Linked DNA regions of Homo sapiens. The protein of the gene in region 1 interacts with the protein of each later gene in a biochemical or structural test. Each region holds a gene or a part of one and is shown in the gene's direction. Other genes may lie near its edges.

Region 1 (7,303 bases):
TCCAATTTCTAGCATGGCCGTGGGAATGTTATCTAACTTCTCTGTGCCTTGCTTTCCTCAGTTGTAAAATGGAAATAAAATAATACCTTATTATGAGGCCTCAGGTTGATAATAAATGTGAGCTACTTAGTAGTGTGCCTGTATCATGGTAACCACTCCATAAATGTGGCTTTTATTATGGAAGGTACACATTTCACCAAGTTATTATATTAACAAGCAAAAATTTAAATACTCTGTTTGTTGAGAGGCTTAACCACTTATTTTGTATATGTAGAGTCAACATGTAGCAGTGGACAATAAGACAACCACAGCAGTAGGAACAGAAGAGCAAGAAAAAGATCTCTTTCTTACACTGAAAAATATTTCCTTCACCTGATTCCTAAAATACCATACCTGAAAAGAGGCAGACTTTTATTCCACAATTAGAGAGAAATAGTTTAAAAGCACATGTTCTAGAATGTTACTTAGCATTGTATGCCTTGATTTATGACAATATATTAATGGTGGTCAAATCCTTTACCTTCAGTTTTGAGAGAAGAGGGGGGTGGAAAAGGAAAGTGGTAGGAGTGAGGATATCCATGAAGAGGAAGGAGAAGGGGAGGCTGACAGCATAGAAGCAAGCTGTGTCCCCAGGTCTGTCCTATTTCTCTACTTATAAATTCCCCAAATAGTTCAATTCCAGTGGGCCTGGGCAAATGTCTTTCTTAATGGGAAATATGCCTGCAAGTGTTTGAGAGTCCTATATACACTGCCCTGGTTTCCTTATGTAGAAGCAGAGGGGAAAAAAATCTTGCTTTTGCTAAAATTTGTCATGCACCCAATGAAGCCCCTCCTTTCTATTCTTCTCCCCCCAGTGGTCTCTATTTACTTATTTATTTATTTAGATATGGTGTGGGCATGTGGGGGTCTCACTATGTTGCTCAGGCTGGTCTTGAACTCAAGGGATCCTCCCACCTCTGCCTCTGAGTATCTGTGACTACATGCATATGCCACCACATCTGGCTCCTATGGCCTTTAAAGGCACCAAAATCCAAGGCTACAGTTAGCAATATAGGAAGTGTCTTTTGAGTCTGCTGTCTTGGTAGTTACACCATTGTCTTGGTTCAAGTATTCCTTCTTTCAATGACAGACCCTTAATTAGTTTTGTGCTTTCATTTCTCCCTCTCCAGGTACCTCTAAATGATCTCCTGAAAATCCCAGTCCACCATTTGACTCCGTGGCTTACAAATCTCCAGTGCTTCTCCATTACCTAATAAGGAAAAAATCAATTTCATTAGTATGTTTGAGAAGGTTATTTCTGAACCCTGCTTAGCCTAAGAGAGTCATCTGCTGCACCTTCTCCTCATCACTTGGATAGCAGCACTGAGATACCAGCTGTTCTCTAAACACGCCATGCTTTTTCATAGGGTTCTCCTTGCTTAGGATGTTTATTCTCTTTCTAGCCCCGCTTTGATCTCTAAAGATCCTTCAGGACCCTTATGAAATGTGACTACTCTAGGAAGGTTTTCCTGAGATTTCTAGGCAGAATAGTTCATTTTTCTATGCTCCAAAAATTGTGTGTTCATGCATTAATGCACTTCTCATAGAAAGTTCTATATATTTTTTAAGTATCTTGTTTCTTCTGTATTATGAGTTTCAAGAAGGAATGGACAGAGTTTGCCTCTCAAATACCAGGACTTGGTTTGTCATAGGCACTCAAAAATGTTGATTTTTGAATAGCTTCTTTCCAAGGCTCCCCATTCCTGCTTACAGAAATGTTACCATCTAAGGCCCACCTCAAACACAGTTTCCCCTGTACCCCATTTTCTCCCACCTGGAGTGCTTTTTTTTTTTCATCCCAAAGACCTACAGGAATTTCCTTTGTTCTCTGATTTGGAATTTTAAAAAATATATTTAAACAAGGTATTTAAAAAAATCTGTCTCCTTGTCTGCAAGTTGATTGAAGTGGAATCTGTGTCTTCTCTATCCAGAGATGCCTGTATTCCCTGAATCAGTATCTTATACCCAGCAGATTCTCTGAAGGATATTTGCTGAATGGAGGAGTTAAGCCAAGGAAAGATAATCCTTAGTGCAACTTCTGAAAAGATACAGGTGACAATACCACTAGCTCCAAAACATTCTGCATAATGTCTGCTTTATTTCACTGCAGTTTATGAGTGCTCCAATTCTAAGGGAGATTATACAGCTGTCAAATACAAATTATCAGTAATTCACACAGTAGAAAGGATAGATTCAATCAGGTTTCTTTCCTCTTTAAACTTGCTTAATGTTGATGAGATATTGACAATGATCAACACATTACATTTTTAGTTCTATGGATTTCCAGTAAATTCTCTAAGCTTTTCTATGTATACAATCATAAGCTCTGTAATGAATTATAATTTGGTATCTTATTTTCAATATTTAAAACTCATATTTCTAAACTCACATTTCATTTTCGATAATTTATTATTTTTAGTTAATTACATAATAGCTCATAATTCCTTGCTTTGTCTTTTATTTTAATGGTGTAGAAGTTATAATTTCCGTGTCTTCAAGCCCCCTTCTCCCCACAAAACACTTAGTTAATATGAGGATGGAGATGATGAAAAATTGGATTGAGGACCAGGTAGAAGGTAATTTAGGTAGTCATATGCTTTATTGTTTTGAAAGAAAGGAGGTGGAAAAGGGAAGGGGTGGGAGTGAGGGTATCAGAGAAGAATTGGGATGAGAGTAAAATGAATGGATTTTATCTTGGAATTCTTGGGGCAAGAGGATGAGTACTGGTACTGGGGACTGGAACAGTGGTTGAATAAGGAAGGTCAGATGATGTCAATGACTAATTTCACTTGTTTTGGAAATTTTCTTTCAGATACCTTTCTTCTTCCAGTTTGGCATTAGAAATCACAATGCAGATATATCATGGGGCAAAAAGACCTTTGTGGAGACTCTAACATTGCTTTTATAGAAAAAACATGACCACATCTTCATACACTCAATAAACACTGGGGGCACCGCCTGCTTTAAGTGCAAGCTGCATAAAATAAATTGATACACAAATGAATTTTTTATTGATAAGTGCAAAAAGATTACATTTAATGTTTAAAAAAGATTTAATAGAAACAATTTAAGAAAAGGGAGTAGTTGAAAGAAAATAGTAGGCTAAGAATTGAATATAGAAATAGATATGAAGAAAATTGGAAGAAAGTTACTTCAGGGTGAAAAACTGTTAAAAAAAAAAATGACTTAGATCACACACTTGGTGGTGACCAGAGACTGTTTGTCAATATTTTGGAGGAAAAAAATTTTACAGAAGGAGAAAATAAGTAATGCTGGAGAGTGGGAAGCTGAAAGGTATTGAAAGGAAAAGAGTATTTGGAAGTCACGAGATATCTCCCTGGGAAATAGAGTTGGCAAAATGGCTGATTTTAAAGAGGTTAACTATTCTCCCCAAATTTCTGACTGTGAACTAGCTTACTTTATATTTACCCACTTAGAAAGTGTTTCAACACTTAAAGACTTAGCAAGGAGACCACAAAGTATAAGACGTTACATACTTTTCCAAAAGAAACACGACTAACTGTAAACTGTCATCAAATACAAATGGAATGGGTTTTCTCTTTTGGGTTTTATTTTTTTATTTTTAATTTTTTGGTGGTTGTTTTCGTTTAACGGTTTCAAAAAATATGTAGAAGGGAAATATTTCATTTCCCTTGGACGCTCAACTGTATATATTTCAAGATTCTTAAAACCCCCACCTCAAACTGCAGGCTTAATTTTAATGTGTTCATTTTTTACAAGGTGTGTCAACGTTTTATCAATTTCTGAAAAGTGTCTATGGCCCCGAAAAGTTGAAATCCACGACATTATATCATCTCTGCGAGCCCTTTCCAGCTCTCAAGGTACAATAATTCCACGAATCTTTGTTCTTCAAACCAGGAGGTTTTCTGGAAACCTTCTTAAACAACCAGGACAGGACCCATGAGGGAAATCTTGGGGATGCTCTGAGCAGCGGACGGGGCTTGGGAAGCGCACCCCTGTACCCGGGCTGCCTCCGGCCCGCACCCCGCCGCTCCCCAAGTCGGCTCCGCACTCCGCACACAGGCGGCGGCGCTGGGGCCGCTCCAAGTGCGTTGAGAAGTGTAATCCCTCCGCTAAGTACTTGGCTCTCAGTCTCCAATCACTAGTGGGAGCTGGAGAGGGCAAGTGAAAAAAAAAAATTCCAGAGGCAGCCGAGGAGCGAGAGGGAAAAAAAAAAAAAAAAAAAAAAAAAGTCCCGCGGTGGCGGCGGCGGCGGCGGCGGAGCGGCCGCGGCGGCCAGAAGTTGACGGCGCAGCCGGGCGCGGGGCGCGGAGTCGGCGGGGCCTCGCGGGACGCCGGGCAGTGCGGAGACCGCGGCGCTGAGGACGCGGGAGCCGGGAGCGCAGCCGCGGGTAAGGCGCGCGCGGCGGGGCCCCGTCCCCTGCGGGTGGCCGAGTTCCCGAGCGCGCGGGAGGCGGCCGAGCCGGCGAGAGCCGGGCAGAGCGAGGGGCGGCGCGGGACGGGTAGCGGCTGGGTGCGGAGCTGGGCGGCGGTCGCCCTAGGCAGGACGGAGCGCGCGAGGGAGAGGGCGAGAGCGAGGGCGGGCTGCGCGGCCGTGGGGCGGTGGCGGCGGCGGGGAGGGGGTCAGGCGGTGGCCGCCTCGGCTTTGTGCGCGGGCGGCTCTGCCGGGACCCCGAGGCCTCGTGCCTGCGCAGGCGAGGAGTCGGGGCAGCGGCGGCGGCGGGCGGGACACGTGCTTCGGGCTGTAGGGACGCCCCAAGGCAGGGAGTCGGACCTGCGAGCGGAGGGATGGGGCGGGAGGGCGAGCTGAGGGCAGTCGCGGAATCCGGGAAATGGGAGGGAGCCCGGCGGGGCGGGGGCCCAGGGCCAGCCCAGGCGGGACCCGCAGGCACCCACCTGCCCCGGACGCCTCCCGAGACCCAGCCTTGCCGTGGGGGAAAGTGCGCAGCGGGCTGGTCCCGGCGCCTTGGACTGGGCTCCGTCTCTGCTTCAGTTGCCTGTCTCTTCTCCTCTCTCTCCTGCTTCTCTCTCTCTATGCCTCTCTCTCAAGTTCTGGGTCTTTCATTCTCTCCCTTTTCTTCCTTTCTCCCTTCCTCTCCTTATTGCTATCCTTTGCCTCTCCCCCCGGTCTCTCTTTCCTTCCGTGCGTCTGTCTCCCTCTCCCCACCGCCTGCTCTGGCTCTCCCAGTGTGTCCCTCCTCTGTCCCTTCATCCTCTTCCCTCTGTCACTTTCGCACAATCTTTTGGTCTCTCTCTCTCTCTCAAGAGGCTTTCGCTCCCGGTCTTCCTGGCTCCCCTGTCTCTTGCTCTCTGCGCCCATCTCTCTGCTCGTCCCTCTTTCTGTCCAGGCTCCGTGTTTCCGCCTGTGTTTGGCGGTGTTGGAGAAGAGCCTCTGGAAGTTGTCCGCTGTGGTGCGGGTCTTACTTCTTTAGAGCTGCACCCCTCCAGCTGGGTCCTGCTGTTTGTTCTGAATGGAAACGCTGCAGTTCCCTTGAGTTATTAGAAACTGCTCTTTTCTTAGCCACCTTTCCAGCAAGGTGAGGTCAGTGACTACGAGCGGCCACAAAGGTGCCAGTGAAAGACAACGGAGGAAGAGAGCCGTTTCACTACCTCCAACAGATAAAGAAAATGTGTTAATACCAAACTTACCTGCAGCAAAGCAGAGCCACCTGAGAAAAGGTTCTTGAGTTCTGCAAAGAAACATAAAAGGCTCCACTGGAAATGAGAGGGTTCAGCTAAAAAGTGTTTGCAAATAATTTGAAAAAGCACTTAATGGAAATCTCTTGCTGTGCTAAATTGATGCCAACGAATCTCTGTTTTCTTACATATATTTTTAGGATTCCAGTGACAACTCTCCTAATTATTGTTTTGGGCAAGTTATGGGAAATGTCCTGTGTCAACTGGGATGTTAGTATTTAAGAAAATATTCAGTCTTTGTACTTTATACCCCTTTACACTCTAGTGATCAAGAAGAATTATTTCTAGCTGTAAAGAAAATAGTAAAGGATTCGTCAGTAATTTTAAAACATGAGACATGCCGGTGATCAATAATGTTTTTGGAAAACTTTCATTATAAGGATGTTTTGAAGGATGTTACATCTTAGTGAAATATGTAAGTTATTACACACTTAGATCATTGTGCAATGCAAAAAAGTTTGTGTTATAAGCAGATCATAGTAGTGATGTCTTTTTATGGGAAACATAGCTGGGAAATTAATTGCTCTGATTTTCACTGTTTTCTTTAGTCATGCATAATGTACCTTTGTGTTTAGCAAAATATGGCCTAGAGCTACAAAACTTGATACAGTGTGTTATTTGTCCAATCTGAATTACCATTTAGAAAACCACCTTTTCCTTTTAGTTACATGATATAAGTTGATATGATCTCATTACTCATGTGCTAGGGGCCGCTGATGAATTTTAATGGCACTGATTTGTGTTTTTAAATCAAAATGTTAGTTTTTGGTGAGTTAAAATCTTGATTTATGTCATGTTAGTGAATCATCACTATTTATAGGGGCTTTGCCACCTTGTCTGCCAGGTGCTGCCCAGCATTTAGTCTAGGCTAGGTTGTCTGAAATTCCCTGTTAGATTATTGTCCCTGAGTGACGTGCTGCCACGGCCTGCTTATGTATGTTTCTCTAAATGTTCCAGTCGTTAAATAATATTTATTAAAAGGAAATTGACTTAAATTTTTCCTCATAAGCTTTGGGAACTGTGTGAGATGGCCTGATAAAGTATTTTTATTACAGTAAATGCTGATTTATTATTATTTGTTTAAAAGTATAAGGCAGTTTAAAATGTGCTTATCTTTTGCCACATATAGCACCTCCTCCAGCTCTTTCTGAGCACTCAAATCGTATTTATCATCCAAATCTAAAGTCAGTTGTCACCTACTCCAACCTAGCAGAGCCTTCCTGATTTTCAGAAGCCCCCTCACCACTGCCTCTGCCTCTCAGGCTTCTGAGTGCCCCTCTTTCGGTGTCCACCTCTGTGCTGTATGGTTACTTGCTTGGCGCTTCCTTGTTGGACTGTTATCTCATTGAGGTGAGATAGTGTCCCTTGTTTCTTTTTCTCTGAATTTCAGATGCCCAGCACAGTACCTGGTATGTGATAGATACTCAAGAAATCCTTGTAGGACGATTGGTTCTTTTCCAAATTACCTCTAACTTGTGATACTGATTCTTTGTGGATGCAGTAGCTCAAGGAAAATACTTAAGAATAGTGTAATAGCAGATCATAGACTTAGGATTGAAAGAGTCTTAGCATGTCATCACACACA
Region 2 (7,608 bases), on another chromosome or scaffold:
GCAAGCTCCGCCTCCTGGGTTCACGCCATTCTCCTGCCTCAGCCTTCCGAGTAGCTGGGACTACAGGCGCCCGCCACCATGCCTGGCTAATTTTTTATATTTTTAGTTAAGATGGGTTTTCACCATGTTAGCCAGGATGGTCTCGATCTCCTGACCTCGGTATCCACCTGCCTTGGCCTCCCAAAGTGCTGGGATTACAGGTGTGAGCCACCGCACCTGGCTTGGATGTTAATATTGAAGGGTTTTTATAGAAAGGACCATATTCCAGAAAGTATCAAGGCAGCAATTTAAAACATAGGGAACTGAAATAGCATTGGATTTTCTTTTTGTCATGAGAAAATATCAGCATCCAGTATTATTTACTTTGAGTGAGGCATATCAAAGGTTGGCAACAATATTAAATGTTTAGAGAAGGAACAACTTGTGCAATTGGGTTAAAAGTTCATCTTTAGATCAGAATAAAGAAAATGAGTTTATGTTTTAGCTTGAGGGACAGGAAAAAAAATTCTTAAAAGTTAGAGGTGTTAGGAATCCGCAAAACAGACGGAGAATGCTTTTTGGACATGTCATTCAGTCTCAGCCTATTAGTAAAAACTAATTGCTCAGAGTAGGTATGATTTTGACAGTGAGTAGTTATCTTGGCACAGCTATGTTCATGGGTCAGATCTATATAGACAAAGCATAATGAGTGGACATTGGAGATTAAGCAATTTGACTGTGATTTTAACTACCAGGATATATTGTCTCTGTATTCCAGAGCCTGAGAAAGACCTGTGAGGACCCTGTTCAAGCTCCACATTTTACAATGAGGAAACTTGGACCCAGCAGAGATAATGAGCTCCTTTCTCAAGATCATAACCTTTTTCTCAGGAAAGGTCACATAAAAGTCTTGCCCTAAGGCGGGCTTATATAGTAACGTCAGGAAGAAACAAACTTCTAGGTCTTGATTTTGTTTTGTTATCTAAGAACTTGGGAAGATATCCTGAAATTCCTGGTAATAGCATGCTGCCAGGATGGAGCAGCAGCTGGTGCCTTGGCCTGGGGAAAGCTTCCAGGATAAGCCTCGGGGATCCATCCACAATACCCCTCACTTGCCCAGGGAGAGGAGACAGACTGACATGGTTTGGACTTGGGGTCCACCACTTTCTAGCTTTGTGACCTTGAGCAACTTACATAACGTCTCTAAACTTCAGATTCTCATCTGTAGGACAGGGATTTTATAAGGGTTGTTGTAAGGGCTAGAGATATATAGGGCAAATATATAAGATATGATAAATATTAATAAGAGGAAAACTAAATTTCTAGCCAATTTCAGAGACCACTTCCAATTCCAATTCGAATTCGAATTCCAATTCCAATTGATCTATCTTACTGCTTCTCAAAACTTAGCAGTGATTCTGGGAATTCCTTCCGTAGCTTCACCAGACACCTAATTGGCCAAGAAGGTTTGAAGACCTGATGTGGTTCTTAATTGGGGATGGGGAATTAAGGGCTACTGTATCTATAGGATTATCTTTTCACTTGCATAGACCTATTTGGTGTGTTCAGGGCATAGTGATACTATAATTGCCATATTTAACAGTTTATAAAGTTCAAGCCCAGCATATTCTTTGCCTGTTTAATGATGTCTTGGTATCAGCCTTTTAATGGTACTTATCAGCATAGAAAATGGAAACAAAATAACTTTTAAAACAGTAGCTCTCAAGCTTTAGTGTGCTCAGAATGACCAGAGAACCTTGTGAAATATACAGATTTCTGGGTCCAGATCTGGGGCAGGACCAGGAAGTCTGCATTTCATCTGCACCCCCACCCTACTCTGAGGCTTATAGTCCTGAGAACATGCTTTGAAAAAGGCTGTCCCAAGGGCTCGCAGACAGGCTATTGACCAGCTACTCTTTCTTGATGTTCTCCAGGAAAAACCCAACAAAGGAATGCCTTTCATTGAGTAGTAGCAGCATAGGAGCAATAGTTGCTCCTGAATTATGGTGGGTTTCCCCTCTTCATCAATGTGCTTTAAGGGTACAGTTTCATTTGGTCTATCTACCATGTTCTATAAAAACATGAAAATTCACAGGTAAGTTTGAGATACAGAAAATAACTAAACTGATTCTTCTCACGAACTCTGATCACTAGGCTGTGGTTGATTTAGCTCTCTAACCAACAAGTAATTTGTTCTTTGGCATGAGTAAGGGGGGAAAAGGAGGAGTGGGTAAAAGCAGCTGATAACAGATGGCTTGCGCCCATCTAAAATGTGGGGAGAGAAATAAAGCTGTCCCAAGAGAACTAAAGCTGAGTTCTCTCGTCATATATCTGAAGATTCATATCAGGGGTCTAAACATGGTATGTCGGGTAGCTTAATTGGAAACTCCTGGACTGTGAGTGTCACAGACTCATGGATGGGCCAATCAGTGGCCACTTTAGTGTCTGGGCTGCAGCAAAATGAGACAATAGCTGTCATTCAAAAACCTTTGGAATTAAAAAAACCCCGAAATGACATTGGTGCTTTAAAGTAAAATAAAGTCCTGCCTTTAAGTCCAGCATATCACTGTTGTTTCTGAGTTTAAATATTAAGAACCACATTTCGTTAATGATTAAAACAACAGTGATTGATTTAGGGGCTCAGTGAGCATTTAATCTGTCCTGACTTCAGGTACCATGCTAAAGGAGCACAATGCCTGATGCTGCAGGAGAAACATTAGGTAACTATTTAATGGAGTTTTAATTTTCTGTTATTATTTTTAATAATTAATTGTGATTTTGACTATTTGGAAGCTACAGGTATATTTTGTCCTCCTTTTGGGGTGGTGTTATTGCCCTGCCCTGTTTTAATCAGTGGTTCTTAGAGAAAGTGAACTCAGGAGTGACTTAAAATGAAGGAAGACGGACTTTGGCTAAAATTACAATTAAATAATCAAATCATTTTCAAATATAAAGGGAGCATGCAGATGATCTGGCCCAATCCTTTCATTCTGCAGATGAGAAAACTGAGACTCATAGGAATGAAAAGACTTGCCCAAAGCCATACAGCTTGTTTCTGTTGTTTGGTGCATTAGGCCAAAAGACCTAGGCCTAATAGATGGAAAAGATGGCAGGATGTCTTGGCCTTGCTCTGACAGTTGCTTCTCTGATCTCAGATATTTCCCACCCTTTGTAATCTGTGTTCCACACAGGAAGTAGTTCTTGTTTTTTAAATATCGAAGGTGTATAAACGTAAAGTTTTTATAGATGAGCCACCCAGGGCCAATATCTGTTTAAGTAAAGACCTAAATGCTTTGCAGAGACAGTAAAGTGTCATGTCTGTCCCAGGGAAAGAAATCCAGGACAGGAAATGCTCAGTCTTCCAGCACTCCTCTGGCTACCTGGAGCTCAGGCTATGAGCCTCAACCCCTCCCTGAAGCATTAGCTCTGGAGCAGAGGCTGTGATTTACTTCAGAGATCTGGGCAAGTCCCTTTAACCTGGTAGTCCTGCCTTTCCTTGTTTGTAAAACAGAGAGATGAGGCTGATAGCTCCCTCACAGCTCCATCAGAGGCAGTGTGTGAAATTAGTTCCTGTTTGGGAAGGTTTAAAAGCCACCACATTCCACCTCCCTGCTAATATGATTACTAAAATGTTTTTATATGAAAGGGCCAATTCCTCATCTCCCCTCTTCCTTTAAAAACAGACCAAGGGGCATCTTTTCTTGTCTCCCTGTGGCCTAAAAGGTTACTGCTTCTGTGGTTATCTCCTTGGAAAGACAGAGTGTCAGGACTCTTAGGTACACCAAAAATGAACAAAAAAATCAACAACAACCATAACACCAACAAAAATAACTGCTGTGTCGGTTCTTAAGACGGCTTCTGAGCTAGAAACAGATTTTTCTAACTGTAAAAAACGTGGCCCCAGCCTGTCTGCAGGCCACCTCTGTCTTTAGGCCTTGGGGGGAGGAGGGAAGTGAGCTCATTTACTGGGGTCTACCTCAGGGTCATCACCAAGGTGTTCTACAAAACGCACTTTAAGAATGTTTTGGAAGGAAATTCACCTTTTAACAGCCCAAGAGGTATCTCTCTCTGGCACACAGTTCTGCACACAGCCTGTTTCTCAACGTTTGGAAATCTTTTAACAGTTTATGGAAGGCCACCTTTTAAACCGATCCAACAGCTCCTTTCTCCATAACCTGATTTTAGAGGTGTTTCATTATCTCTAATTACTCAGGGTAAATGGTGATTACTCAGTGTTTTAATCATCAGTTTGGGCAGCAGTTACACTAAACTCAGGGAAGCCCAGACTCCCATGGGTATTTTTGGAAGGTACGGCGACTAGTCGGTGCATGCTTTCTAGTACCTCCGCACGTGGTCCCCAGGTGAGCCCCAGCCGCTTCCCAGAGCTGGAGGCAGCGGCGTCCCAGCTCCGACGGCAGCTGCGGACTCGGGCGCTGCCTGGGCTTCCGGGACCCGGGCCTGCTAGGCGAGGTCGGGCGGCTGGAGGGGAGGATGTGGGCGGGGCTCCCATCCCCAGAAAGGGAGGCGAGCGAGGGAGGAGGGAAGGAGGGAGGGGCCGCCGGGGAAGAGGAGGAGGAAGGAAAGAAAGAAAGCGAGGGAGGGAAAGAGGAGGAAGGAAGATGCGAGAAGGCAGAGGAGGAGGGAGGGAGGGAAGGAGCGCGGAGCCCGGCCCGGAAGCTAGGTGAGTGTGGCATCCGAGCTGAGGGACGCGAGCCTGAGACGCCGCTGCTGCTCCGGCTGAGTATCTAGCTTGTCTCCCCGATGGGATTCCCGTCCAAGCTATCTCGAGCCTGCAGCGCCACAGTCCCCGGCCCTCGCCCAGGTTCACTGCAACCGTTCAGAGGTCCCCAGGAGCTGCTGCTGGCGAGCCCGCTACTGCAGGGACCTATGGTGAGCAAGGCTACCTGGTGAGGGGAGACAGGCAGAGGGGGTCTAGGAGCCTCCTTGGGGGGAAGAAGCTGGTCACAGGCTGTGACCGAGGCAAAAGGTGGCCTAATTATTTTCCAATAGTGGTGCTGGAGGTGGGGATGCTGGCGCTGAAAGACCTTTAAATATCGGCTACTGCCCCTGCCCAGGCCTTCTCTGTCCAGCAGTCCCTGGGAGATTCTCACCTTTGGGAAGTGCGGGGCAGGAGAGCAGAAACAAGAGAAGCCCTTGGTAGGGGGGTCGTTGGGAAAAACTGTGGGGTCTTGGGCTGAACGCGTTGCCCACGGGCTGGAGGTTGCGATCCCCGGACGGAAAGCGCGGGAGGAGGAAGGAGAGAACCGGCTCTGAGGTCCAGAGAGAGTGAGGGGGCAGAGCGACGGCGAGATGGGGAGAGAACACCTAGCTGGAGCAGGTTCTGCGGTAGAGAGCGCAGTCCTGCTGGCCTCTGGAGAGTGCGCGCCGCTCCGGAGGCTGCGTCGAGGGGAGTGTCACCCAATCTGGCCCCCAGCTGGCGGGGCGCCCTGAGAGCTTGCGAACTGCAGTTGCAGGACGCGCCTTCTCCACGAGCTATTTTCGTCGACTTGCGGAACCCAAGGAACCTCGCCTCTATCATTTCACGGTGTAGGGTCCCTAGAGACGACAGCCAAGATCCCAGGGGCTCCCAGGACGCTTGTTCCTGCGGTGTCGTGTCCTATGGGGAGTTCCTGGCGGGACGAAAGGCGGACGCGCGGCTCTTCCTGGCCCTCCAGGCCCGGAACCGACGGGAAAGGTTCCCGTGATTCCCGAGTCCCTGCAGGCTTCTTCCAGCGGGAGTTGGTCCGGGGGCCTTAGAGGCCTCCAAGCACTGCTTTGGAGGATGGTTTCCAAGGATCGCGGTTTGTGAGTTGAAGGCTTTGTGAGAGGTTAAACCCCCAAAAGATACATACTTGGTAAACTGAGGCTACCTGTAAACACATTTCGGCATTAGGAGAAGATTCGAGTAGGGAAGTGAAGGACAACCACCCCGAGTTACATTCCTTTCCCCCAATAAAAAGCTCTGGGGATGAAAGTTCTTTTGGCTTTTATCTTTTCGATTTAAAAATTTGAGAAGAAAAATGTGACTAGAGATGAATCCTGGTGAATCCGAAATTGAAACACAACTCCCCCTTCCCCTTCCTATCCTCTCGGTTTTAGAACCGCGCTCTCCCGCCCCAGGAGATTCCTTGGGGCCGAGGGTTTTCCGGGGAACCCGGGCGCCCGCCCCTTCTACTGTCCCTTTGCCCCGCGGGCACAGCTTGCCTCCGTCTGCTTTCTCTACTTCTGGACCTCTCCTCGCCGGGCTTTTTAAAGGGCTTCTGCGTCTCAAAACAAAACAAAAAAACCCTTTGCTCTTCCCAACCCTTTCGCAGCCCGCCCCAGCGGTGGCGCGGGACCAGCAAAGGCGAAAGCCGCGCGGCTCTTGCCGGGCGCGGACGGTCGCGCAGGGGCGCCCGCGGCCTCCGCACCCGGACCTGAGGTGTTGGTCGACTCCGGGCATCCACGGTCGGGAGGGAGGGCTGAGCTGTTCGATCCTTTACTTTTCTTCCTCAAAGTCTACCTGCCAATGCCCCTAAGAAGAAAACCAAGTATGTGCGTGGAGAGTGGGGCGGCAGGCAACCCGAGTTCTTGAGCTCCGGAGCGACCCAAAGCAGCAACTGGGAACAGCCTCAGGAAAGGGAGGTCGGGTGGAGTGGGCTTTGGGGCAGGAGTCATGGGGCCCGGGCCCCGGGGACGACCTGGCGCTCCCGGCCCTGCTGAACGCTGAGTTGCGCCTAGTCGGGTTTTCGAAGAGGCCCTTGCGCAGAGCGACCCACGCGCGCGGCAGCATCTTCGATTAGTCAGGACATCCCAGTAACTGCTTGAACTGTAGGTAGGTAAAATTCTTGAAGGAGTATTTGCTGCGTGCGACTCTGCTGCTGGTGCAACGGAGGAAGGGGGTGGGGGAAGGAAGTGGCGGGGGAAGGAGTGTGGTGGTGGTTTAAAAAATAAGGGAAGCCGAGGCGAGAGAGACGCAGACGCAGAGGTCGAGCGCAGGCCGAAAGCTGTTCACCGTTTTCTCGACTCCGGGGAACATGGTGGGATTTCCTTTCTGCGCCGGGTCGGGAGTTGTAAAACCTCGGCCACATTAAGATCTGAAAACTGTGATGCGTCCTTTCTGCAGCGACGCCTCTTTCTGAATCTGCCCGGAGCTTCGAGCCCCGGCGTCTGTCCCTCAGCCTGGCATGGCTTCTTCGGGGGTCTGCTTTGCATGGGGAGAGGGGCCACGCAGCGGCGGACTAGGTTTGGGGATTCTCGGTAATGGACCCGGAGCAATGACTAACAGCCGCTCCCTCTCACTTTCCCACAGCGATCACCCTCTAACACCCTCCCTCCCATTCCCGGCCCCGCGCGTGACAAGGTCGGCTGCTTTCAGCCGGGAGCTAGATCGGTGGCCCGGCTCTTCGGAGCCTTAGCAGGCGTTCGCCAAGGGGTGACTGGCTGTCATTGGGAGCAATATTTGGCCTTGAGGAGACCCTGGGGAGGAAGTGGCGGGGAGCTCGTGTTTGCTTGTGTGTGTGTGGGGGGGTGTGTGTGTACACGCGCGTGGGCAGGGTCCCTCTGCGCTTTCCTTTTTAAGTGCCTCTCGGTGGTGAGGCTTTGGGCGGGTGAGACTTTCCCGACCTCGCTCCCGGCCCCACTTAAGCC
Region 3 (7,021 bases), on another chromosome or scaffold:
AGGTTGGATGCAGAATCATGCTCTTGTCGTTCAGGATGACCATGGGGACCATGGGGTCTGAGCCTGTGACCCTCCAGTCTACAGTGTGTTGGTGAGGAAGGAGCAGTTGTCACTGGGGTCACTGGCAATGGGCATGCCTCCATCTAGCTTAGGCAAGATGCTTGGACTCAGAGCCAGAGAGTGAAACCCAGACACTAATGAGCTGTCGGTGTTGGTGTGTGTTCTCTTCCTCTTCCAGTGGAACATGACAAGGAATTCTTCCACCCACGCTACCACCATCGAGAGTTCCGGTTTGATCTTTCCAAGATCCCAGAAGGGGAAGCTGTCACGGCAGCCGAATTCCGGATCTACAAGGACTACATCCGGGAACGCTTCGACAATGAGACGTTCCGGATCAGCGTTTATCAGGTGCTCCAGGAGCACTTGGGCAGGTGGGTGCTATACGGGTATCTGGGAGAGGTGCTGAGTTTCCTCTGGGGGCAGAGGAAGAAGGTGGTGAGGGCCAGAGGATGGGTCAGATTGGCACAACCACGTGCCAGGCCCTGTACCAGATTATCCCTTCTAAAGAAGGTGTATGGTGTATGTCACTTCCTTAAAACCATGACCGACAACAAATTCAGGAATAGTAGAAGGCCAGGGAGCCCAGGGATGCGTGGTGCCTTGTGGGTTTTTATAGGCAGTCTAGATCTGGCTGGGTGCTAAGGGACATAGAAGAAAAGGGGAAGGGGAAGAAACATTTTTGAAGGGCTACCTCTCTCCCGTTTCTCACTCTGAAACCCAGTGCACGATGTCAGGCAACCAATTAAGGTGGCCATCTAAAATAAAATGTTAGGGGAAGAAAAAAACCCAAACCAAAAAAAACAGAGAACTCTTAGCCTTCCAAGAATCACTAGGTCAGAAACCAAACGTTTGTGTTGAAAGTCTTTAATTTATCGAGATCCATTAATTTCAAGGTCTTGTGAGAGGTAAGGAGGCTAAGAAAAAGGGCTGGGACATTTAGCAGGTGCATTCTATTCAGACAGTCCCGAGGCAGAAATGACCAAGGTCCTATTACTCAGTGGCTGGGTTGCTGGACCCCGCAGGCTGTCAGACATCTACCGTCCCCACTGGGCAGGGAAATTGATGGAAGAAAGGTGGTGTGGGCACCTCCTTGTGATGTGCAGGCTTAGCATCTTCAGCTAGAAAGGGGACTTGTTACCATAGACAGGGACAGAAGAACCATCACAGCTACGTTTGCCAAGCACTGCTATTTGGTGCTGGTGGGGGGTGGGGGTGGGGATGGTCATCTAAGTACCAAGAAAACAAAACTGTTCTTGAGCGTTTCCAGAGTGTTTTGCACTTGATATCTTGTTTCATATTCACAGTAGCCTTCAGAAGTGGTGGCTTATCTGTAAAATGAGGAGAACTAAAGTGACCTGAAGCCAAAGAATGAGGCTACCCAGAGAGAATGTGGCCACATTAGGACGTGAGCCCAGGTTTGCAAAGCTGGAGCCCATGCTTATGAAAGATATTTCTTTCCAAAATTTGTTTTTAGGCCGGGTGTGGTAGCTCACGCCTGTAATCCCAGCACTTTGGAAGGCCAAGGCAGGTGGATCATTTGAGGTCAGGAGTTTGAGACCAGCCTGGCCAACACGGTGAAACCCCGTCTCTACTAAAAATAGAAAAATTAGCCAGGCATGGTGGCGGGCGCCTGTAATCCCAGCTACTTGGGAGGCTGAGGCAGGAGAATTGCTTGAACCCAGGAGGAGAAGGTTGCAGTGAGCCGAGATGGTGCCACCGCACTCCAGCCTGGGTGACAGAGTGAGACTCTTTCTCAAAAAAAAAAAAAAAAAAAAGTTTTTGAGTAGGCAAGACATGTTCATGGTATAAAATCAAAAGGAAAGAAGAGGAACCACAGTGAAAATGAAGGCTTCCAGCCCCTGCTGAGGTGGTCCCTGATGCCAGTTTCTTGAGTCTCCTGAAATCAGCGAAGGAATCTGTGTTGCTGTTTTCACCTGTGGAACCCCACAGTGCACTCACTCCTGCCTCTGGCTTTCATCGTTGGATGATGAACCTTGGCAGCCCTTTCCAGGGGTTCACACGGGGTGCCCTCATCCTCTGAGTCACCTCACTGTTCCACGGCTTGGGTTGTGCTGTGTTTCACGTGTGCACGCTGGCTCCTCTGTTCTATGATGGATGGTGCCGCAGGGCAAGTACCCTCGCTGACATACGTGTTCATGTCTATCAGTCAGATAAAGTTCTAGAGATAGAATTGTGGGGTCAGAGGGCCCACACATGGGTGGCTTTGGTAGACACTGCTGAGCAGCTCTCCTGGGAGGTGACATCGACATCTACTCCCAGCAGCCAGGGAGCTTCTTGCTTAGGATGAAACCACAGCCTCTGTGTCCAGGCTGTTATCTGGATTCTCCACTCAGCTCCGGCAGCTCTTGGTCCTTCCTGCTGGCTTTGTGGGCACCTGGTCCCATCATGGTCTGTGGTGCCTCTGCTGTCTTGCCTGAGATCCATGGGGTGGATCCTGAGGGCTGCAGGGTTGGGCAGCAGGCCTGAGCACTGTGTTTGGAGGAGGGATGGGCGTTCCAGGCGTCCTCCCTGCCAGGCTGCCGGCAACAGGCAACTTGGGCTGGGGGTGCCCATTCTAGTGCTGGGGTCCTGCTCCTGGGGGCTTCTGGGCTGCTGAGTGACTGAGTCCCTCCTCAGCACAGGTACCTGCTGCATGCCATGCCTGAGGGCATCGACCAGAACGAACCAGACACGAGTCCCTGCCCTCTGGAAGCTCACGTTCCAGCAGAGGAGAGGACATGGCAGGTGGGAGCATTGAGCAAGGAAGGGAATAGGGTGAGAAGCAGTGGAGGGCAAGACGGAGCTGCTTTCTTTAGGTTTCTACATGTTCTTCCTGTGCCTCCTGCAGCAAAGCCTCCATTCTTCAGAAGTTAAATGGTTAAATTTAAAAAATATATTATTTATTCATTTTTCTGGACAGGTTGTTTTGTTTTTCAACCTAGAACCAAGATGCCCCTATGATGTAATTCCCCAGCTATTAAGAGCATGGATTCAAATCCTGCCACCAGCTACCCATGTGGCCTTGGGAAAGAGTCATCTCTCAGAGCCTCAGTTTTTCCCTCTGTAAAATGGGGATAATAATTGAATCTCCCTCCCAGAGTTGTGCTGTGGATGAAAGGGGGTGACATACTTACAACAGTGTCTTACACACAGGAAGTGCTCAATAAATGGTCACCTGCGTTAGTATCATCATCATCACAGCAGGAAGTGGAGCAAGACCTCTTTAGGAAGACAAGAGCCCTGGGTGGTGGCTGTGGCACTGCCTTCCCATGTAGGTCCACCGAGCCAATTCCCCTAATTCTGCAATCTTCCAGTAGGAACAAAGCCCTGAGCTTGCAAATGCTCTTCAAATCCCCCACGCTTCCTCCAGCTCGCCTGTTCAGAGATAGGCTTTTTCTTTGCATGTCCCCAACCTGGTTGCATGTCCCCAACCTGGGCCCGCACAGCTTCTTCCAGCTGAAGGCCTCCTGCAGACCTCAGCCCGGGGGAGCCCAGAGCCTGCCCTGCTGTCCCCGCCATGTGGCTGCCTCTGTCTCTGTGCCGCCAGCTGCCCAGCTGTGCAGGGCTGGGACATCTGACGAGCTGTGCCTGAGCTCCAGGAAAGCCCCGGGGGTGCCGAGGATTAGCCGGCTTTGGGTCAGCCTCAGCGTCTCTCCCCTTGTGGGAGTCACTTTCCACTGACTCCTCTTGATCTCTCGGAATCCAGATTAAATTCCGATAATGAGCCGAGCTGGAGGCCTTCCATAGCCCTGCGGCTCTGCTTAAAGCGCGGCCCCAGACAGCTGGAAAGACATGTTGGAGCCGCCCTTGGCGGGCTGTGGAGCGAGTGGGGGCTCAGAGGCAGGTCTGGGGACAGTGGCCTTGGCTCCAGAGGCCTTGCTGGGGTGAGAGGGGGCTGCGAAAGGATCGGAGTCTTATCCTCATTTTCTGAACCCCAGGCCTGAGGCCAGGCCAGCTGGGGCCTGGCTTCCAGGAGCTGGACTTGCTCCTGTCTCCATTGGTGCAGACTTTGGTTCCAGGTGAAGGTGAGGATATTTGGGGTAGGGGTTGTGCTGTTTGCCCTGTTTCTGCTGTGGAGCTGGGACCTGGCATCTTCCATCCCAGTCTTCCCCGTCTCTCCTTGAGCATGTGTCAGGCTTGCCCCACTCCACAGCGCTGCCCCACATGTAGGCGACACACTTCTGCTTTGGGAGCTGGCCTCTGAGAACCTCCCTGGGAGGCCAAGGCCAGCCAGGGCAGCAGAATCTGCTCCAAGGGAGTCGGCCGCCACCAAGGTCGAGATGATGTTGGCAGCTGGATGAAAATGTCCCTGGGTTCATCTCAGTGATTTTGGCTGCCAGGAGGGTGACCTCAGCGTGGTCTCGAGGGCCAAGATTTGGATCAGCTGCAGCCTGAGTCACTCTGAGGAAGAGGGAGCTGCCCCCTGCCTGTCCCCACCACACAGGATGGATTGGCAGAGGAGGCCTGGGCTCAGTTTCCTGGGTCCCTTCAGCCCAGGCAGAGGCTCTTGCCCTCGACTAGCCCTGGGATGGGGGCCCTGAGTTTCTGCCTTTCTGAGAAGCTCCCTGGGGACGCCGTGATGATTTTGGTCCATAAACCTGAGAAGGTAGGTGGGGCTGGATGTGGTAGGAGGAACGATGCAGCCCCCTCACAGGGCGGCCCTCGGGCAGTGGGCCAAGGGCTCCTTGCCCAGTCCTCTCCTGGGGATGCTGGGGTGGTGGCAACTTATGATGTGCGGATTCATGACTTGGTAGCAAGACTCTGGGCGGGTTTTGCCCTGCCGTTAGCCCCCATGAGCGTGTTTGGGCAGAGAGCCATGGTCACGTTCCAGAGCATGTCTCCACCCTGTGGTTGAGGCTTCTTGTTGCGTGGTGCTTACTGTTTATGACTGTGCTGGACACTTCAGCTTTGTTTCATGCCTTGGAAAGGTTCCTATGAAGATGTATCATCCCCATTTTACAGGTGCGGAGCCTGGCTCAGAGGTGGGAAGTAACTTGCCCAAAAGCACACAGCTACAAAGTGGCAGAGGTGGGGCTCAAACCCAGGCTCTTAGATTTCAGCAGTCACCATCTTAGCCATGGCCGTGCCTCAGTGATTCCCATAGTGCTGATTCCCTCACCTGGGGCTCAGATGGGTCCATTGATGAGTCCTGAGCTGGTTTTCAGCCTTGGCTGTGCAATAGAATCACAGAGGCTTTTAAAACTCCTGATCCGTAGGGGTTGAACTGTCATTGGTGTGCTTTAAAAGCTCCCAGGTGATTCCCTGTGTGCTGGGGTGTGAACAGGTGGCTAAGATCTCTCTAATTTCTCACCCATGAGCTGTCTTACATGCCCAAGAGGAAGGAAAGAGATTCCTTTTTTTTTTTTTTTTGAGATGGAGTCTCACTGTGTTGCCCAGGCTGGAGTGCAGTGGCACGATCCCAGCTCACTGCAACCTCCACCTCTCAAGTTCAAGTGATTCTCCTGCCTCAGCCTCCCAAGTAGCTGGGATTACAAGTATGTACCACCATGCCTGGCTGATTTTTTTATTTTTAGTAGAGATGGGGTTTCACCATGTATTGGCCTTCTGTGACACATTCCATGTTCCCTTCAGCTTGGTGTCTCAGAGAAGACTGTTCTTCTTCCCATGAGACTGAGCCCAAAGTGTAGTCCAGACCACAATTGTCAGTCTCAATGGCACAGGAAAGGGACTGGCTAAGGGTGAAGATCCCTTTGGACTCTGGCTCCAGAGGCTTCTGGAAGCTTCTGGAAGCTTCCAGAAGCCTCTGGAGTTTCTTGCTGCTCCTGAAGGCTACATGCCTGTTTCCTCGTCTCCTGGCTTCTACCCCTTGCCACTACACCTCAGCCCCAGGGCATGAGTTCTGGTTTTGAGCTGCCTTCTCAGGATGTGCCAGGTCAGCTTCCTGAGTAGCCTTTTCAGAGGGCAAGGAGGATTCCTTTTGGCTGCTGGGAACTTCCAGGATGTCCTGGAAGGTCAGAGGAGAGCAGCCCTCATCAAGGAGCCTTGGCATTTTTCCTCGCAGTCCCTTTCTCTGGGCCTCACTCCAGAACCGAGACTGAAGCTGCCTGAGAGGGAGTGGCAGGCCCTTAATGCCTTTGGTTCCGCTTGGGGTCCTCTCATGGATCTGCAAGGATCCCTCTGGAAAAAGCCACCCAGCTGGGCAGAGATGGCAAACCACTGTGTTCAATCCAGTTAATGCCAGAGACACAGCCAGTATCCCCTACTCAGCATCTGGGGGCCAAATGCCCGTTGGCTTCCTGTCCTGTGGCCTGAGGCCATCTGGTGGGCCTTGGTGGCTTTTTTTTATCTCTGTCCCTGTTATTTCTTCCCATAATTCATCCCGAGCCTGGCTTCACAGGGAGCATACGGGTGGTGGCTGGGAATCGATGGCAACAGATTCCGTTTGCTGAGTGTTTGCGGCGGGCGGGGGCTCAGCAGGTTGCCCACATTTTCCCTGATTCCCCGTAGGTGTTATATCACGTTCAGTGAAGCCGAGCGGGTGTCCCCACGAGGTGGTCAGTCCTGCCCCTCTTGTAGACCACCTGTGGGAAAGGTCTGCTCTCTTTACGTTTCCATCGATTTAGCTGGGTCCACAATGCGATCTTGGAGCCTCCTCTCTCCCATGACACTTGTCTATGCTGGGAGAAGGGATGGCTGCCTTTGGGAACAGTCATGATGACAAAAGCTAATTGCATGCAATGGGGGCTCTTTACTGCTTCCCACAACAACCCCCCATGGAGACACCCTTATCCCTGCCCACCCCTCTTTTTTTTTTTTTTTTTTTTTTTGAGAGATAGGGTCTTGCTCTGTTGCTCTGCTGGAGTGCAGTGGAGTGATCACAGCTCACTGCAGCCTCGACCTCCTGGGTTGGAGCAATCGTCCCACCTGAGCCTCTCAAGTAGCTAGGACCATAGGAACACACCACTATGTCTGGCTAGTTTTTTACTTTTGTAGAGATGAG
Region 4 (7,333 bases), on another chromosome or scaffold:
GTTCAAGCCATGAAATAAAATGCCAGCCAAACGTGCATATCTTCAAATATTTAATGCATTTTAACGAGATTTATGGACACAGGTTATGAAGAGAGTACACCCTAAGTGAGGTCATCAATGAACAGAATTCTTGTTCTTATCCTTGGTATTAAGGGAAGAACTTCTGATGCGCTTTTCTCAGATTGTATAATCTTCCTTTGTTCTATCTGGTCACCTAACAAATAAGCTCCTATTCTGCTATGAATCCCTTAAACACAAATAACTCTCTGATAAGATAGTCAAGCTCACACCTGTAATCCCAGCTACTTGGGAGGCTAAGGTGGGAGGGTCACTCGAGGCTAGAAGTTTGGGACCAGCCTGGGCAACATAAGGAGACTCTGTCTCAACAAAAAGTATAGAAATTAGCCCCATGCAGTGGGGAGCACCTTAGCTACTTGGGAGGCTGGGGCCAGTGGTTCGAGGCTACAGTGAGCTATGATTGCAGCGCTGTACTCCAGCCTGAGTAACAGAGGGAGGCCTTCGTCTCTAAAAAAGCAAAAAAAAGCAAGTAACTCTCTACTCTCCCATTCACAATTTAGTGCCATTTAGTTACATGTTTAGCCTATAATTTCAAAGACATCATTTAAAATCTTTAAAACATCTATACGGCCAGCATGGTGGCTCACACCTATAATCCCAGCACTTTTGGAGGCTCAGGCAGGAGGATTGCTTGAGCCCAGGAATTCTGAGACCAGCCTCAGTAACATAGGGAGACCACCATCTCTACAAAAAAATTAAAAAATTAGTCGGGCATGGTGGCTCGCGCCTATATATATACATATATATCTCCCATGGATAAATTATATCTTGAATGCTGTTTGAAGGTAATAAAAAACTATTCTACTGTTTAACGGTTTCAGTTAGGTCTAGAATCAGTTTTCTGTTCTTGGGTATAGAGAGCTTGTTCCTAGGTATTTTCGGAATCCCTTTGTAGATGTAAAAAGAATTTTGGTCGTTGATTTCATTTCTTGCTTTAAACTTCAAAAGGACAGTAGATTGTACTATTTTTTTTCCCTCTACTTATCAACCTACATGTAGGAAAGTAATAACTGAATTATGTGCAAAGCATAAGTAAAATTCTCTAGAGAAGCAATTTTCCTTAAGAATGTTAAATTGAATTAAAATTGTTGCCTATTCTCTCAACTATTGATATGGCCTTATGATTGACACATTATCCCTAAACTGATTTTGATATTCTACATTGATTCAAACACTCTGATTCATTTAGTTGAAAAGTCCATGTCTTCCCCAGAACCATTAGATAAAGTGCGGACTTGTTTCTCTTTAATTTCTGGTCATTTAGAAAGTTTGCCCATTAATAATAAAAACAAAATAGTTGAAATCATTGTCTAAAAAATGGATCCCAAGTTCTTATTCAGAATTGGACTTGGAACAAAAAAATATATACAACCTGGAGTGCTCAAAGTCAACATTAATTCAATAAAATACAAATATCTTAGTTTGGTTTCTTTGGGTTGCAAGGAAAAGAACCTTAAGTAAAAAGGGGACTTTATTAAGGTTACTGAATTAACCTAAGGACAAGAAGTGACGCTGAGTGCCTGGAAATCCATTTGGATTTATGTATTTGCCACTTTGCATATCTTCATTATTTTTCTTCCTCTGCAGACAGGTGGACTACAGCTGCCCCAAAGCAAAATTTTTATGTCTCCCGTGAAATGACCTCAAGGGACTGAGCAGCATGTCTGCTCAAAGACACAGAAGAGAGAATCTAACTGACCTAACCTGGGTCATGTGACTAGCTATGGCCAGAGATTAGGAGATCAGAGTCTCCTAATCAGGTTGCCAACGCCCACTCCGGGAAAAGGGACATTCTCTGACTTGGGCTGGGAGACACTCAGAAAGTGTCTACTAGAATGCAACTTTCACCAACACATTCCCCAGACCTCTTCCATTAAATATTTATCTGTATCAAAGGGAAGTATAGTTCATTTCTGATACGTCTCTGTTCACTTCTTCACATTTTATGCTGCAATCACAAAGACTTGCTTGTCATCCCAACTACCTGTTCGCTGCTTACCACTCCTACTCACCTACACAATCATATTTCATGCCTAAGTCCTGTGGTCCTCTGTGCTTGTAATGGTCTTCTTCCAATCCTTAATGTCATTGCTTCTAGACTTTACCGGCTCTCTTTACCTTCCTAGACTAGTTAACCTCTTTCTTTTAGGCATTGTAACATCATGCACATAAATCTCCATTATTGTCCAGCTCCATTGTTTTGAGATTTACTATCTAGTTTCTGACATCTTTATACCCCCAGACATTGCAAGCCTCGCCTACGGTGGGAGGCCAGGTTGAACTAACATACCCTGAAAGTTTCCTTTTAGCTAATAATTGACTCTAAAAGAGAGTGTAATCATTACATAAAAAGTATTGTCCTCTGGGCGCGGTGGCTCACGCCTGTAAATCCCAGCACTTTGGGAGGCCGAGGCGGGCGGATCACGAGGTCGGAAGTTCGAGAGCAGCCTGACCAACATGGCGAAACCTCGTCTCTATAAAAATACAGAAATTAGCCAGGCGTGGAGACAGGTGCCTGTAATCCCAGCTACTCAGGAGGCTGAGGCAGGAGAATGGCTTGAACCCGGGAGGCGGAAGGTTGCAGTGAGCCGAGATCGCGCCACTGTACTCCAGCCTGGGCGACAGTGCCAGACTCGTCTCAAAAAAAAAAAAAAAAAAAAAAAAAGTCTTGTCTGCATAAAACCCTTACAATTGTTAACTTGTCAAGGTTCTAGTAGCCAGGAAGTTCTAATCAAACTCGGCCCCAGGACTGCCTTGTCAGCACGCCCCTTGAGAAACTTTTCTGAGAAACCTGCTGTTTACCTGGTGCCCTAACCAGTTTAATTTTCTTTTAAAACTTCTACTGGATTTCTCCTTCTCTCCTTTTAGATGCAATTTTGATCTAGAGAAGTAATGGTCTGAGCATCAGTTTATGAAATTATTTTATTTTTCTGCACATAAACATTATTTTTCAAAGACAATTTCATTAACTACATCCTGCAGCTCTGCAGACTTTCAACAACTTTAAAAGGTTAGGCGTTTGAGATATGTTCGCCTTGACTTTCAGTCCTCAAGACATATGTACATTTTTCTTAGTCTCAAAGCTCATGTCTGCACTCTAGTCCTAAAGGATTTGTCTTTATAATTCTCACCTTAGCATGAAATGTGCTTCTCTTTCTTTCCTTCCCCACCCCCCACCCCCTTTTGACATATCCGGTAGGGAAGCTCTGGCAGATTCTCAAGAAGAATTTTGCAAATGGTCGACTTTTGTTCATCTCAGGTTTTGGAGGGAGAGGATAAAAGAACATTCCCTCAGATAATGAGTTTTAACCTTAATTCCTTCCAAAGCGGAGGGGGAAACAAAACTACAGCAAGACCACCTTGAGTACCTTGGGAAGGGCAGCCCCGCGATCCCTAATAAATGAATTAGCATCTCAAGGAGGAGATCACTGCGGGGCTGATATTGATCAGGGTCAGCCGGCGTGTTTGCCAGCCATTGTTTGGGGGGTGGTTAATTGAGTGTCAGTCTCGGCCAGTGTCGTCTCGTTGGCGCCGGGTGCTTTTGGATTTGCTAATTTTCGTTAAGTGTCTCTAGCCCGCTACTCGTCCCGCGTACCCGGGAGAACCTAGCGGCTCCTAACGGATCAACAGTCAGTCTGTCTGGGCTTTATTGATCCCATGGCGGGCAGCTCGAGGCGGACACGCTGAGGGGGTGGGGGGCGAAGGCTGAATGCAGACCCCAGCGCTGGGCCGCCTCCCCCGGGCTCCCACCCGAACCCTCCTCCGCCACCTGCACAGGCCGGGGCATTGTCACTCGCCCCTGGGGGTTCCAGAAAACGCAGTGCGGCCGGGGAGGACGACCACACGGACCCCCTGCGTGTTTCGGGGGGCACCCAAAAGAAGCCCCGCGCTGGGGAACGCTGACCACCCGAGGCTGAGCCGTCAGGGTCTCGGAGGCGGGTTCCCGAGCCGGTCCCGGGGCTGGGCTCCCCCGGCGCCTCGCGAAGGTCACTGACGCGCAGGCCTCCGCAAGGGGGAGCGCGGGAGACGGCAGCGCACCAGCCGGGCGCCCCAGCCGGGCGCCCCAGACGCCGGCGCCGCTCGGAGCCGCCGGGCAGGTCCCCCAGCGCTCGCGTCTGGGCCCGCCCCCCGCTGCGGGGCGGATTGACAGGAGCCCGGCGGCCAATCGGACGCCGTGGGGCGGGGCGAGGCGGGGCGGTGCAGGCCGGCTCCCGGCGCGGGGCGCTATTTACGGCGCGGAGCCGGAGAGACCTGGGCTGGCGCGGGCGGGAGCTGCGGCGGATACCCTTGCGTGCTGTGGAGACCCTACTCTCTTCGCTGAGAACGGCCGCTAGCGGGGACTGAAGGCCGGGAGCCCACTCCCGACCCGGGGCTAGCGTGCGTCCCTAGAGTCGAGCGGGGCAAGGGAGCCAGTGGCCGCCGACGGGGGACCGGGAAACTTTTCTGGGCTCCTGGGCGCGCCCTGTAGCCGCGCTCCATGCTCCGGCAGCGGCCCGAAACCCAGCCCCGCCGCTGACGGCGCCCGCCGCTCCGGGCAGGGCCCATGCCCTGCGCGCTCCGGGGGTCGTAGGCTGCCGCCGAGCCGGGGCTCCGGAAGCCGGCGGGGGCGCCGCGGCCGTGCGGGGCGTCAATGGATCGCCACTCCAGCTACATCTTCATCTGGCTGCAGCTGGAGCTCTGCGCCATGGCCGTGCTGCTCACCAAAGGTGGGTGCCGGGGGCGCACGGGGCCCGGGGTCCCGTCCTCGCCGCGGGGCTTTGGAGCCGGCTGCAGAGGCTTTGTTAGCGGCAGGCGAGGCTCCCTCCTGCGCCGGAGCCGCAGGTCGCGACAAGTTGCTGTGTTCTTAGAAGTCGCGGCGGTGGCCTGGCGCGTGGATGCGGACTCCGATCTAAGGGCAGGCGCTGATCAGAGGGTCCTCCTGGCTCTGCCTGCGGGGAGCGGCGCGTTTGCAGCCCAGCGGGGAGCGGGGCCGGAGTCTCGGCCTCGACGCCGCCGCTTCCGCACCCTGGGGGCTCGGGCGGCCGGGAGGAATCGCAGATCCTGGCCTGTAGCTGCCGCGTGCCCTCAGCGTGTCTGTGTGAGTGCCTCAGGGTGTATTTCTGTGAGTGTGTCTCTGAGTCTCAGTATCCCTAAATGCATTTTTGTGTCTCTGAGTGTCGTTGTGTTTCTGAAAGTGTGTCTGAACCTCTGTATCACTCAGCGTATCTCTGTGTCTCTTTGAATGTATCTCTGAATGCATTTCTGTGTCTCTTTCTGAGTCTTTGTGTCTCTGAATGTGTGAGTCTCTGTATCTCTGATCTTGAGTGTGTCTTTCTGAATGCATTTCTGTGTCTGTCTCTAAGTGTCTTTGTATCTCTGAATGTGCATCTGAGTCTCTGTGTGAGTGTGTCTCTGCGTACATCTCTCTGTGTGCGAGCGAGTGTGTGGGTCTCCCTGAGAGTTTAGGTGTCCGAGGTGTGCAGAAGTGTGTGTTGTGTTGCTTTTCAGCAGCCGGGAGGAGTAGGCTCTGTCAGCGTCTCACTGCCACTCACCTCATATTTTACAAACAGGACCAAAAAAAAAAAAAAGGCAGCGGGTCAGTTTCTTCTTTCCTCTGCAGGCTTTCACCTTTTAGAAAGAAATAACCCGAACTGTCTCCGAATTTCAAGGTTCTCCTCACCTCCCTGCTGTGAAATCTACCTACTGTTCTGTGAACAGATAATTTTTTTAAGTAGGAAGCAGTTTAGTCTTTGCAGCCCCCTACTTCTCTTTAATTGCTATGTAGCAGGCATGAGGTTAAAGCATAAGCTAGCCCAGCGAGGATGATGTGCTACAGTATTTATTTATTTTGGAAGGAAGGGTGTAATTAACCCTAAATAACAGCCCTTGTGGCTTGCAGAGGGGAGCCTCCTGGCCCTATCAAAGGCGGGCAGAACAGGGAGGGACTGAGGCTGACATGAAGTCACAGATACCGAAACTATGTGCCTGATAATGATATAATTAGGGGATCAGAGATTTCTGACGGCTGCGGACTTCAAAAGCTTTAAAAGAAGCCAGCAGTCTCTCCTGTAGCCATCTTGACTAAAGCAGACATTTTTGTTTAATCACTACATACAGTAACGAGAAGGGGACAGAAACAGAAGGGCATTGTTCCACAGTTTCAAAATACCAGTCCCCTTTCTGGCCTTTTGCATGCCACAGGAAGAAACTTTATGAACGACAGAAATATAGTTTTAATACAGTGGTACAAAAGTCCATTCTCCTTGCTTAAAATGTGGCTCCAATTAAAAAAAAAAGGTAGTTAGAACTTTCCCAGTTACCTGTCAAAATTTTATTAGGCTGTTTTTAGGTCATTGAAAATAGGCTCTCATAAACATTTAAGCAGCATTTTACTTGTATTCAGTCTTCCTTTTCTGTACAAGGTCTGAAGCTAATAGGGTCAAAATGGGCTTTTAATCTGTTTTATTTATACTTTAAATCTATATATGGAATTTGTCAAACTAGGGATATGTAGTCATCACCCCAGAAGACTGGTGAGCTTTATGTGGAAAATAAAGTGAGCTTGGAGGGAGGAGGAGAAAGAGCAGAGAAGTGGTTCTGCAAAGCAAGGTTCTTACTTGAAGCAGAGAAGGAACTTGGGCCCAACCAGTGCAGATTTAGGAGCAAGACCCCTAGCTTTGGACTGTTAAGGGTTGCCAAAGATCTGTGTTTAGCGGGCTGGTTTTCCTTAGAACCGAAGCATTAGCAGCGTCCGGTGAAAACTGAGCATACAATACCGTGGTCTGGAATTTGGACAGATAATTAAATGAGACACCTTACTGGGGCGTTCAGAGAGAGGGGGAAGAATAAAGGTAAGGGTGGGAAGAGGTTTGTAAAACAGCAGATCCCGGTGTTTAATTTCAGAGTGGAGGTTTCGGATCTTCAGACGGGAAACTGGAAGAGGCGTGTGCATTAGTTTAGTTTACTCGCTGTGGCATGTGACAGCGACCAGGGTCCACTAGGTGGATATTGTATTAGTGAGAACTTGAAGACCCAGATTATTTCAACGAGAAACTGATATTAAAGCCTCCAATCTTGCCCTGCGACAAAATGTGAACGGAGCCATGCAACTCACAAAATAAGTTTTTATAAAGGAAACTTTTAATCACTTCCTGTAGAAAATTTGAGGTTTCCTTAAGGATTTTTCATTCAACCAGCAGAGGATTTTCAGTTTCAGTGTTTCCCCTTTTAGATCACATGTCGAATTACATGTAAAACTTGTGAGGAGGAGGAGGAG

What was found.
Region 2: the proteins of BMPR1B (region 1) and BMP4 form a complex in vitro, tested with the Homo sapiens proteins (one study listed by BioGRID).
Region 3: the proteins of BMPR1B (region 1) and BMP7 form a complex in vitro, tested with the Homo sapiens proteins (2 studies listed by BioGRID).
Region 4: the proteins of BMPR1B (region 1) and BAMBI form a complex in vitro, tested with the Homo sapiens proteins (one study listed by BioGRID).

The regions. Positions count from the first base shown.
Region 1 is NC_000004.12:94,753,657-94,760,959, forward strand, and holds the start of BMPR1B (bone morphogenetic protein receptor type-1B isoform b precursor), read left to right. Parts: upstream 1-4,298; 5' UTR 4,299-4,412; intron 4,413-7,303. UniProt on the Homo sapiens protein: On ligand binding, forms a receptor complex consisting of two type II and two type I transmembrane serine/threonine kinases.
Region 2 is NC_000014.9:53,953,811-53,961,418, reverse strand, and holds the start of BMP4 (bone morphogenetic protein 4 isoform a preproprotein), read left to right. Parts: upstream 1-4,593; 5' UTR 4,594-4,598; coding exon of another isoform or gene 4,599-4,660; 5' UTR 4,661-4,869; intron 4,870-5,090; coding exon of another isoform or gene 5,091-5,518; exon of another isoform or gene 5,519-7,237; intron 7,238-7,608. Other genes in the region: uncharacterized protein LOC124903317, read right to left, coding at 5,091-5,518.
Region 3 is NC_000020.11:57,221,639-57,228,659, reverse strand, and holds part of BMP7 (bone morphogenetic protein 7 preproprotein), read left to right. Parts: intron 1-238; coding exon 239-431; intron 432-7,021. UniProt on the Homo sapiens protein: Growth factor of the TGF-beta superfamily that plays important role in various biological processes, including embryogenesis, hematopoiesis, neurogenesis and skeletal morphogenesis.
Region 4 is NC_000010.11:28,673,190-28,680,522, forward strand, and holds the start of BAMBI (BMP and activin membrane-bound inhibitor homolog precursor), read left to right. Parts: upstream 1-4,331; 5' UTR 4,332-4,708; coding exon 4,709-4,784; intron 4,785-7,333. UniProt on the Homo sapiens protein: Negatively regulates TGF-beta signaling.